Regions from separate parts of the Homo sapiens genome. Here region 2 is linked to region 1. Evidence: fine-mapped expression QTL. A gene starts in region 1. The other region holds a variant in brackets. All regions are shown on one strand. Distances are between the middles of the regions.

Region 1 (5,364 bases):
ACTGCCAGTGCTCAGCAGTCCCAGGTGCCTAACGGCCACCACACTGGACGCAGTGGAGGGAGGCTCTGTCCATCCACTTCCATCACCCACAGATGGAGCTGCTGCTACGGTCTTATACTACTGGATATCTAGTAGTGCCCACATGATAGTACATACTAACTATCTGTCGAATGAATAATACAATAATTAGTTTTAACTTGTCTTAATAATTCTTAAAATGTGACAGTCAAAACGGAAGACGTCCGCTTGTTTTACACAGTTGGATTAGCTGGGGGTTATTCTTCCCTTCTGCCTATTCCCAGCTTTGTTTTTAGGGAACGTGCCACAGATTTTGGATCACACGTTCACAGAATGTATCTGATTATTTCATTCTGGCCAAATCTGTCATATTTGTTTCTCCAAATGAATTATCTAAATATTATTTTACCCAAACTGTTTGCAGTTGGGTAGATGATGTACATGTTAAACCTTCCTGGACGCTGATTTATTTTTTTCAATGTGTTAGTATCAAATTCTAGCAAATTTATTTCTTAAGCAAAGAAATCATTCCCTTTTCAAAGCCTTCTTTTCTTTAAAAAGAAATCAAGCAAGTATCCCAGCATACCATGAGTCAAAGAGGAAACTGGAAACTTCCAGGGCAAAATCTTAGACCCAAGATGAATTCTGCAAGGAAACGTGATGTGAAACTGATCCAGCTATTTGTAGGATTACAATAAATACACCTTTGCCCTCAACTCCACAATTTACTGCCAAGCTGCACAAGACAGGGATACAAAAGGAGCCGGCGGAGACACTGTTAGCGGATCCCTTCACTCCAGAGGCCAGTTTTATCCCAACACAAGGATTCTTTACTGCCTCTGCCCCTGAGTAAACAAACACCTTCCCCCCAAGGACATTTCCCTTTCTCCTGCCCTCTTTGCAAACAACATCTGAATTTGCACGTACTCTCCAGGAAATCAAATGAATGTAACCTATCTAACCAAAGAAACTGAAGAACACGCCATAAATTGAAAGATCGGTTCCTACAGTTCAGTATTTTCTCCAGTAGGCCTTTCTGTAAAAACAAAAAAACACATTTCTCCTGCAGAACCCTTTATAAATATGGTTTTGATGATCACAATTACATTGAGACAGTCTCCTACAACAAGAAACGACTTTTGGATCTGCTCAACAGAAAGAGAATTTTGCAGCTGTGTTCAAGGAAGCAAGAAAAGCAGAGAGTGAATTTTCATGGAGTTAGACTGCGTTGAGACGAATGAAGCTAAGGCTCAGGTCTCTTTCATTACGTGTTTGACTTGTCCTGATTCAAAATCTAAATAACTTAAAGGGTGATTCTTCATGGAATTCGAATCTTAACACCGGAATAAAAGGGTAGCCTGCTGACGACGATCACAGGGAGGACAAGGGGTCACCCCCACTTTCATAACATGGCCTGACCCTTTTCTGCCGCGGACAATTGATCCGAAGGACGCCGGCTGCCCAGCCCTGGCGGGCCACTACTGACCTAGTCCGAAGTTAGGAACAGCCTTGCAAACCGCCCCCTCCCCCTCCATTTCATCAAAATCGGGGAACAAATTCAGAAAAGGTGCAGCTGGTTTTCTCCCTACACGTGCCCTAAAACTCGGGGGCTGGATCCACTTTTCATAGCTGTTTAATAAGAACTCCGGGCAGTTCGTATTACTTCTTTCTCAGAGTGCTTGGTGGTTTAAGTTAAAGCATTTTCCTCTCTCGCCTTTGGGGGAAAAAGCCTCGGCTGCTGGGGTTTGTGGGCCCCTCCCCCGGACTTCGTCTTCCTTTCCTTCCCCAGCCCCCGACCCGTTTTGCTCTCGTCCAAAACAGAGCGACTCCCCCGCTGCCGAGGAAAAGCCAGTTCAAGAAGCCGGGGGAAGGGTGGGGCCCCGCGTGCCCCGGAGCAGCGCCCCTCGAAGGCGGGGGCAGGAAGCAGCCGCCGCGCCCCGTCCCGCTTCCCTCCCTTCGGGCCAGAACAATGGCTTTTTGCCCGGAAAACGGAGTTGGGAGCAAGGGCGGGCGCGCCCCGGGAATCACGCGGGACTCGGTGGGCGCCCCAGGCCCGAAGTCCCTAGGCACCTCCTCCCCCAGCCAGGGGCCCGCCCGCGCCCCCACCCCCGCCCCCGCCCCCGCCCGGGGCCCCGCGCGGGACCCCCCGCCGGAGCGCGAGGCCCAGCCCGCCGCGGACAATGCGCGCCCCGCCCCGCCCCGCACCCGCCCCCCCTCGCTGATTGGCCCGCACGGGATTTGGGCAGCGCGCGGGGGCGGGCGGCGGGCCGGGGCGCGGGCGCGGAGCGGCGGTGCGCGTGCGCGGGGCGGGCCGGCGCCGGGCGGGGGCGGTGCTTTGTGTGCTGCCGGCGGGGCGCGCGGCGGTCCGGGCGGGTGACTGGCGGCGGGCGCCGCGGTCGGGCTGGCTGCCGGGCAGCATGGAGGAGCTGAGCAGCGTGGGCGAGCAGGTCTTCGCCGCCGAGTGCATCCTGAGCAAGCGGCTCCGCAAGGTGCGTGCGGCCCGCCGGGCCCCCCGCCCGCCGCCCGCTGTCCGTCTGGCTCACGGCCCCTCTTCTCTCCCCGCAGGGCAAGCTGGAGTACCTGGTCAAGTGGCGCGGCTGGTCCTCCAAGTGAGTCCCCCGCGACGCCGCGCCCCCCTCCCGCCCCCTCGCCCGGGGGTGGGGACGTGGAGCCCCTCGGCCGCGCCGTCCGGTGGCCTGGGGGCGCCCGCGGGCAGAGCGGGAAGTTCGCGGGGTCCCCGCGGGCTCCTCCGGCTCTGAGGGGGGCGGGGGCCGCCCGGCCCGAGGTTGCCCTTTGTTTACACGCCCGCGGGTGCAGAGCTGGGCGGCCCCCCGCGCCAGAACCTCCTCGGCTGCCGCGCCGCGCTCCCCCCAACCCCCGTCCCGGCCGGGAGGGAGGCGCGGGATGCAAGCCCCCCTCCTCTTGGCCAGATTCTCCCCGCTGTAACCTGAGCTTGCTATTGATGGATGTAGAGTTTCTTTTTTTTTTTCTTTCTTTTAATGGAAGGGAGGGTGTTTGGCATCCCCGGAAGGGGCTCTCTGCACAGCTGCTCCCGCGGCCCCGTTTCTGCGTCTTCCCGGACCCCGCTCTTTCTTCGCTACCCCTCGAGGTGCCCCGGCCCGCGCGCCACATTGTTCTGGATCTCGGGCTGGGCGCCTGTGCCCCTCCCTGCATGCTGGACCTGCCTTCCCTTCCTCCTCTGGCTCCGGGCCAGGGTTTGGGGGAATCCCTCTCTGCAACTTTGCGTTTTATGGGGGTTTGTTTTTCTCCCAGGCAGAGACTGTGGGAGTCCTCTTGTGGCCTTGTTTTAATTGGGGGGTTGGAGCGGCAGTTTCCCTTTGGGTCTGAGGTTAGAGTGCTGGCTTGGTGGGGGGTGGCCAGCCTCCAAAACCTGGGTTTGGACTTTGAGAAGTGCCATGGTGCTACGGTGCCACTGCCATCGGCCCAAGTCGAGGAGCGGTGAGGGCGAGCCCCCTCGGGCTGCCTTGCAAAGCGGTGATCATCAGCCTGGCGTCTAATGCTGCCCTGTCCTCTGCTTTGCAGACATAACAGCTGGGAGCCGGAGGAGAACATCCTGGACCCGAGGCTGCTCCTGGCCTTCCAGAAGAAGTGAGGACGCTGACAGCACTGGGGAGGGTGTGGGGGAGGGACGGTGGCTGGTTGGAGTCGTGCTGGGCGCTGCTCGCCTGCCGGGAGGCTGGAGCTGGGGCTGTGGTCTGAGGTCCCTTAGCAAGATTGTGTCCAGGGCCATCTCTGTGGCTGGCTGTAAAAGTCCCCAGCCAGCCCCTCTCCCACCTTCTCCTAGCCAGCCTGTATCCATCCCTGAGAAGAACCTAAGTAAGTGCTGCTTTGGTGTTTCCGACAGCCATACTTGCAAAAACCAACTTTTTCAGTTGCTTCAGATAAAGATGTTATAGCTTCTCTTGGCCTTTTCTGCTGAGTAATTTGCACATGGCGCTAACAGAAAACCAGGAGAGCAGGTTTGCCACAGTGACGCAGGTCTGCCCTTCCAGCCCTGCACGCGTGTGCCATCAGGCAAGAAGGCTCAGAGAGGGAGCTGGAACACACAGCACGCAGTTGTGCCTATTGTGATGTCTCTCTCAAGAAAGAAACATTTATTTTGCTCTGGCCTGCAGCATACAGTACCAAGTAGCACCATGAGGCCGGATTGGGCCAGACTTGTTTCTGTAATTCTAGATGTCATTTCTATTTTTAGGTAGGAAGTTTAGGTTAAGAGATAGGCCTCCTTGAGATGTTCAAGGGCAAGGGGTGGTGAGGAGAGGGCAGTGGATGTGCCCACCTGGCATGAAGGGCCAGGGAGTACTGTTCAAGCAATGGCAAGATGGGGGGTGGTTTCACTGACGGCTCCCCCTGGATCCCCTGGCTGGACTTGCCCTGTGGATAGAGGCAGAAGAATTGGTTGCTGGAGTCTTTCCCAGCCAGGGTCAATCTGGACGGTTTGTTCTCTGGTAGCAAAAGGTGCATTCCCTTTTTTCCACTGTAGCGGGACATATTGGGTCTTCCCAGAGGGGTCATGATAATGGGGAAATAGAGTTTTCTGGTGGGGCGAGCAAAAAGAAGAGCCTGTGCTTGCTTAAATCCCTTTGGAAAATCGTAACAGCAACCCATCGTCTTCTGTTAGTTCCTGTCTGGGTGCTGTGAGCCTTGGGGTGGGGGAATGGCTTGGCCCACTTCAGAGGCTGGTGCGCTTCTCTGGATCTAAGACGGTGTCCTAACTGTTGAGAGAGATTGTGGTTTTGGTTAGAGCAGAAACACCTGAGATAAGAAGAGTGTAAAACCCATGGGTGGCTTGGATGACATCGTGGAAGAAAGAAAACAGAGAAGGTGGGACAGCCTTCTCCATCCACCAAAATGTTAGCTCTCTCTGGGCACTAGGAGCTGGCGGTTACCTGCTTGGTATTGGAGGGGGTGGGGGTATGGCCCTTGGCGACGCACAGGATCACAGCAGTCAGTGCACAGGTTAATATTTCAGCGGAGGAGATCCATGCAACACTTCATTGTCCTTTTAGGAGATTTCAGGTTAAGGACCAGCACTTAAGAGTATGAACTTTGCCTGGTACTAATCAGAACTGTGTTGAGGAGGTTGCCTTCCAGGCCCCAATGAGATGATGTTTGCCCAGATAATTACCAGGGCCCCTTTTCTGAAATACAGGCTTTCCCTGGGGGCTGGAGGTTCTGCTAGCACTTCATGACCCTGGAGGTGTGGAGGCTCTTCTGGGGGCGGGGGGGGTACTGCGAGTGGTGCGTGCATTGAGCCTTGCCTGCCTCAGACCTCGGCACCTCTGTCATCTCCCTCAAGAGTAGAGTTTAGGAACAGAGAGGTAT
Region 2 (5,364 bases), 900 kb before region 1:
CCAAAGTGCTGAGATTACAGGCGTGAGCCACTGCGCCCAGCCTGGGTGATTCTTTACAGTAACACAGAGTCTATCAGGGGCACAACAGGGGCAGGGGCAGGAAGTTTCACCCAAAGGAGACATCGGCAGGCACAGCTGGCAGACCCAAGGGACAGATGCTGAGGAAGGACAAACAGAAGGAAAGAGGATCCCAACTAAGCCCCAACCAAACAGAAAGGAGTTGGGGAAGAGGCTGGGCTGGGGCAATTCCAGAATATTCTGGAGCCTGAGGTTGCTGACAGGCCATGCAACACAGGGCTTTCTCCTAGCAATTAAGCCAGGATTCTGTTCCACTCCTGGTAACCTGAGGACAAGCAGATCAGTAGTTCATGCTGTCACTTGGGCAGGGTTGGGTAGAGCCCTCCCTTTCTTAATTTCAAGGCCATTAGTTGGTGACATGGTCTGTTTTAATGGCTTTAAAAGCTTTGCCCTCCCAAACTCAGCTCTTCAGGGTCACTCTGGGTAAGTGTTATGTTACGGTGGATATGAGCAAAACAGAGAGGTAAGGAGCAGACCACGCCAGGCTCCAGGCAGCCTCCTAGCCCCAGCCCCAGCCCCACCCCACGTGGTCGGCTCAAATCTCTTAGAACCCCTTAGGCAGGGCTGTCTCTTCCCACAGGGGCAAGGAGGCTCAGGCGTGTGGGTGCTCCATCTGTGTCCATCCCCCTGGGCCCCACCAATGCTCTCTGGATCCCAGGCTGGCATCAGAGTCCCACACCACAGCCCCACTGCCTCGCCTGGGCACAAACCCCTTTCTTCTTTCTTCTTCTGTTGGAGCTGAGTCATGACTGGCCAAGGCCACAGGTTCCTGTTTCCCAGGCTAATCCATGCCTCATCCTGAAAAGCCACATCTAGGAAATGTCTCCCGGCAGGCCACTCCAGAACAGACGGCTTTGCCCTGACGGCCCCCTATTTCCAGTGCCCTCCTAACCATCCTCTCATCCACCGCAACCAGCTGTCTTTTTTTATTCACGTTCGTTTCTGCTCAAACATCATCCTTGGCTGCCCCCTGCCCTCCCCTAAAATATGAGCGCCTTTGCAACCTGAAGTCAGCCAGGGGCCTCAGCTGCTGTGCCCAACACCCCCCACCCATGCTCCCACTATTCTACCACTTCATAATACTTGTCTGCCCTGAACACGCCCAGGTGCATCCACACCTCTGAACAGACAAGTTTCTTTCTTTCTTTTTTTTTTAGACAGAGTCTTGCTCTGTCATCCCCACCCCTGCTAGGCTGGAGTGCAGTGGCGCAATCTCAGCCATCTCCCAGGTTCAAATGACTCTCCTGCCTTAGCTTCCCAGGTAGCTGGGATTACAGGTGGGCACCACCATGCCTGGCTAATTACCATATATATTTTTTTGAGACGGAGTTTCACTTTTGTCACCCAGGCTGGAGTGCAATGGCTTGATCTCAGCTCACTGCAACCTCCACCTCCCAGGTTCAAGCAATTCTCCTGCCTCAGCCTCCTGAGTAGCTGGGGTTACAGGTAACTGCCACCTTGCCAGGCTAATTTTTTTTTTTTTTGGTATTTTTAGTAGAGACAGGGTTTTAGCATGTTGGCCAGGCTGGTCTCGAACTCCTGACCTCAAGTGATCCGCCCACTTTGGCCTCCCAAAGTGCTGGGATTACAGGTGTGAGCCACCACACCCAGCCTGAACAGGCAAGTTTCTTCCGCCCCAAATGCCATCTCCCCTCTCTGCCTGGAGAACTTTTCTTCATTCTTCAAGACCCAGCTAAAATAGCCCTTTTCTGTCTTCCTCTGGGAAATCCTGTCCTTCTGCAGCACTTGGTATATTCCCCATCTCTTTTCCATCCTGCTGTCAGTTCCTGCACACCTGTCTGCTCAGGGCCCTGGGAGGTCCTAACAGGTTGAGGCTAGATTCTGACTGCAGAACAGTTGGTGCTCACTAACTCTTTGCCAGATGGAGCTGAGATGACGCTGACAACTTTGGGCTGGTGGCCCAGGTGCAGTTTGTCCTTGGCTCTCTTGCTCCCTGCCTAATCTATATACCTTACGACAATGCTGCACCAAAAATGTTTATGCAAATTAGTCAATGTGCCAGATTAACTTGGTCAAAGTTTGCTCTTCATGTAGCAGAGTCACCAGCTCACAAGCAAACCAGGGCCAGGCACGGTGGCTCACTCCTATAATCCCAGCACTTCGGGAGGCCGAGGCGGGCGGATCACTTGAGGTCAGGAGTTTGAGACCAGCCTAGCCAACATGGTGAAACCCCATCTCTACAAAAAATACAAAAATCCCAGCCACTTGGGAGGCTGAGGCAGGAGAATCGCTTGAACCCAGGAGGTGAAAGTTGCAGTGAGCTGAGATCATGCCACTGCACTCCAGCCTGGGCAACAGAGTGAGACTCCGTCTTTTAAAAAAAGAAAAGAAAGAAAAGGAAAAAAAGCAAGCCAGCAGAATCCAAAGGAATCAACAGTTCCAGTAGGAGCAGCAAGCCGGCCTTTATTACAGTCTGCTGAATTCTGTATGTTATTTTGGAAATTTCTGGAGCTGCTTTTCTTTTCTTTCTTTCTTTTTTTTTTTTTTGAGATGGAGTCTAGCTCTGTCATCCAGGCTGGAGTGCAATGGTGCAATCTTGGCCCACTGCAACCTCCGCCTCCTGGGTTCAAGCAATTCTCCTGCCTCAGCCTCCCAAGTAGCTGGGATTACAGGCACGCGCCACCATGCCCGGCTAATTTTTTGTATTTATTTTAGTAGAGACGGGGTTTCACCATGCTGGCCAGGATGGTCTTGAACTCCTGACCTCGTGATCCGCCTGCCTCGGCCTCCCAACGTGCTGGGATTACAGGCATGAGCTACCGCGCCCGGCCTTGGAGCTGCCTTTCAATGGTCCACTAAGCCGCACAATGCTTAACGCACAATAGGCA[C/G]TCAACAAGCATGTCACTGGAGTTCAGAAAATAAGCAAAGATTACTTCAAAACGGCCAAAATGTTGCATCCTACCATGGGCATTGAGGTTCACATGCTGTTCTCTTACAAAAACGCCTAAGGCTCCCAGGTGGCAGCTGGGCACTTATTTGAAGGAGGCAGCAAGAGACAGAGATCCTGCATTCACCCCTGGATGGCTGCGTGATCTTTGAGAAGCTCCTTGACTTCACTGAGCCACAGTTGTTCACACCTAAGACAGAGACGATGACAACAGTCTTGACACTTCACAAGGTCGTGGTGACTGTTAGAGGGGCTGGTGTGGAGGCTGCGGTGCCCGGGAACTAATGCGTGTACAGTTCAGGACCACGAGCATCGCATAGACAAGCAGGGCGAATTCTCCCGCTCCCGTGGGTGAGGGATTGGGACGGTGGCATCATGCCACTCAGGTACACAGACCCGGTCCTGGTCAGCAGGCCACAGACTCTCGATTTGATGCAGCTTCCCAGCGTGCTAGCTTTGCCTGGGGGCTGCAGATTACACACTTTCCTTCTTTAAAGTGTCAGAAAAGAGGAGGCTGGTCAAATCAAGGGTCCAGGGTAGCCACGTGGGGTTAGGACTAGAAAGTGAACTGGCGAGGAGGCCGCCAGATGCCTGCAGGGAAGTGGGGGTGAGGGGCAGGGAAGTGGGGGTGAGGGGCCTGGAGGAGCAGAGCCTGAGGGCATCTCCATCTCCCCTGGGCTGCTTTAGTCTGCCCCTGGGGAACAGAATTCAGATTCTTCAGGGTCCCTTTAAATTGGGGGTGGGCACCTCCTCCCCCACTTTGCAAAATGAGAAATTACATGAAAGAAGGAAAATGGGAATCAAGAGAGGCAAAGAAGGACCAGTTCCACGGCAACCTTCCCCAAAGCACCAGCACGCCGCAGACATGAAGGAGAGGGGCCAGCTGACAGCTCTGATCGGTGCACACCAGTTGGCATAGCGGGATCTGCACCGCTGACCTGCTCAGAGCAGCGGGTACCTGTCGGGGGTTGTTGCCCAGAGGTGACAGCAGGTGAAGAGAGGGTACAGGGTGAATCCTGCATACAGCAGGCCTTGCCTGGGAGGAGCATCCAATCCAGGCAAGATGACAGACGATGGATAGGAACACAGAGAAGGAGAGTTTCCAATGCCCAGTGGTGGACAGAGGAGGAGGGAGAGAGAGCTCTCCGGAATACATTTCCATGCCAATGGCAATGGTCCGCACTCTGAGCTCCAGGATGGACCACCAGTTCTGTAGGGGAAAGCAGGCCACTTCAAAAGAGGGAGGGCCTCTCCGAGTCCCAGGCCATGTGAAGAACAGGGCTGGGGAAAGCGAAGAGACATAAGGAATCTGGGAAGAAATGAAAATTGTGGCACAGACACGTTTACTGAACACCTACTGGGTGCTGGGCCTGGTGTTAGGCACTGGGGTGGGTGTCAGCCCATCTCCTGTCCATGCCCCCGAGAGGGGCTGCTCTGCTCCTCTGCCCCTTCCCCAAGGAGCCAGAGGCAGCTGCGAGAGGGGGAGTCTTTATAAAGACTCTCGTTCTAACTGCCCTGAGCCCAGAAACCACGGCCTCTCCCTGGGCGTCTCAGATTTCGTTTTTCCTTCTTTCCCTTCTGCTGTGAACACAACATCTGGGTTTGAGATCAAGGGTGATACACTGGCTGATGAATTCACCGCCAGATGCCGGCTACTGGAATGTACAACCGTCGGCTGAATTCAAAGCACACGCAACTGCAGGGTCCCCACCCCCACCCCTCCAGCCCAGGACACCATATGATGTCACTTCCCCCCTGCAAAAACAATCCCGAGCGCACCCGCCAGAGTGGGGACGGAAAAGAACCGGGTGGGCGGAAAACCAAGGTCGCGGGAGACGATCCAAAGAGGATGGGCTACGGTCAGACTTCGACAGTCACAACCGCCCCTGGAAAACCATCAGAGGCCGGACCGGCTGCTGCTGCTCTCGGAGGGGAGCAGACAGTGAAGGGGGCTTGCTGGAGAACCTGGTGTCACCAGCATGTGCCAGGGCCAAGGGCTGGCCGGAGGGGCGGCACTCTCCACAGACTCCAACCACGCCAGCCCCAGGCAGAGACGCCACGGCTTCTGTGGCACGGTCCTCCCTTGTTCTCTCTCCTCGGTGTCCCCTCTGCTGCCATCAACACGTGGGTCCTGCGTCCTCACGTCCCCTTCATACACCCACCAACATCTTTCCAATCCTCCTGTGTCCACAGAAGTACTATGGAAGTTCCTGCGGAAAATAAGAACAAGCCATGCCCACAATTGGGGGAGGGAGACAGACCCCAAAAGAAAATTGCCTCGAAAGGCCGGGTGCAGTGGCTCACACTTGTAATCCCAGCACTTGGGAGGCCAAGGTGGATGGGTTGCTTGAAGCTAGGAGTTCAAGACCAGCCTGAGC

Evidence for each region. PIP is the estimated chance that this variant, and not a neighbour inherited with it, causes the effect.
Region 2: its variant is the best candidate, but not a certain one, in a credible set for the expression of CBX2 in whole blood (TOPMed, PIP 0.63).

Annotation. Positions count from the first base shown.
Region 1 is chr17:79,775,801-79,781,164 of GRCh38, forward strand. It overlaps CBX2 (chromobox 2), which reads left to right and starts at 2,348. Exons shown (of 5, transcript NM_005189.3): 1 at 2,348-2,507; 2 at 2,584-2,627; 3 at 3,562-3,627. The coding sequence starts at 2,436. RefSeq lists silencers at 2,153-2,532, 2,543-2,612 and an enhancer at 3,008-3,601.
Region 2 is chr17:78,875,136-78,880,499 of GRCh38, forward strand. All of the region lies in intron 1 of TIMP2 (TIMP metallopeptidase inhibitor 2), which reads right to left. Among named protein-coding and RNA genes, the nearest start is that of CEP295NL, 25 kb to the right of the region's middle. RefSeq lists enhancers at 3,738-4,631, 4,632-5,364. The variant C/G (reference allele first, on the strand shown) is at 2,928.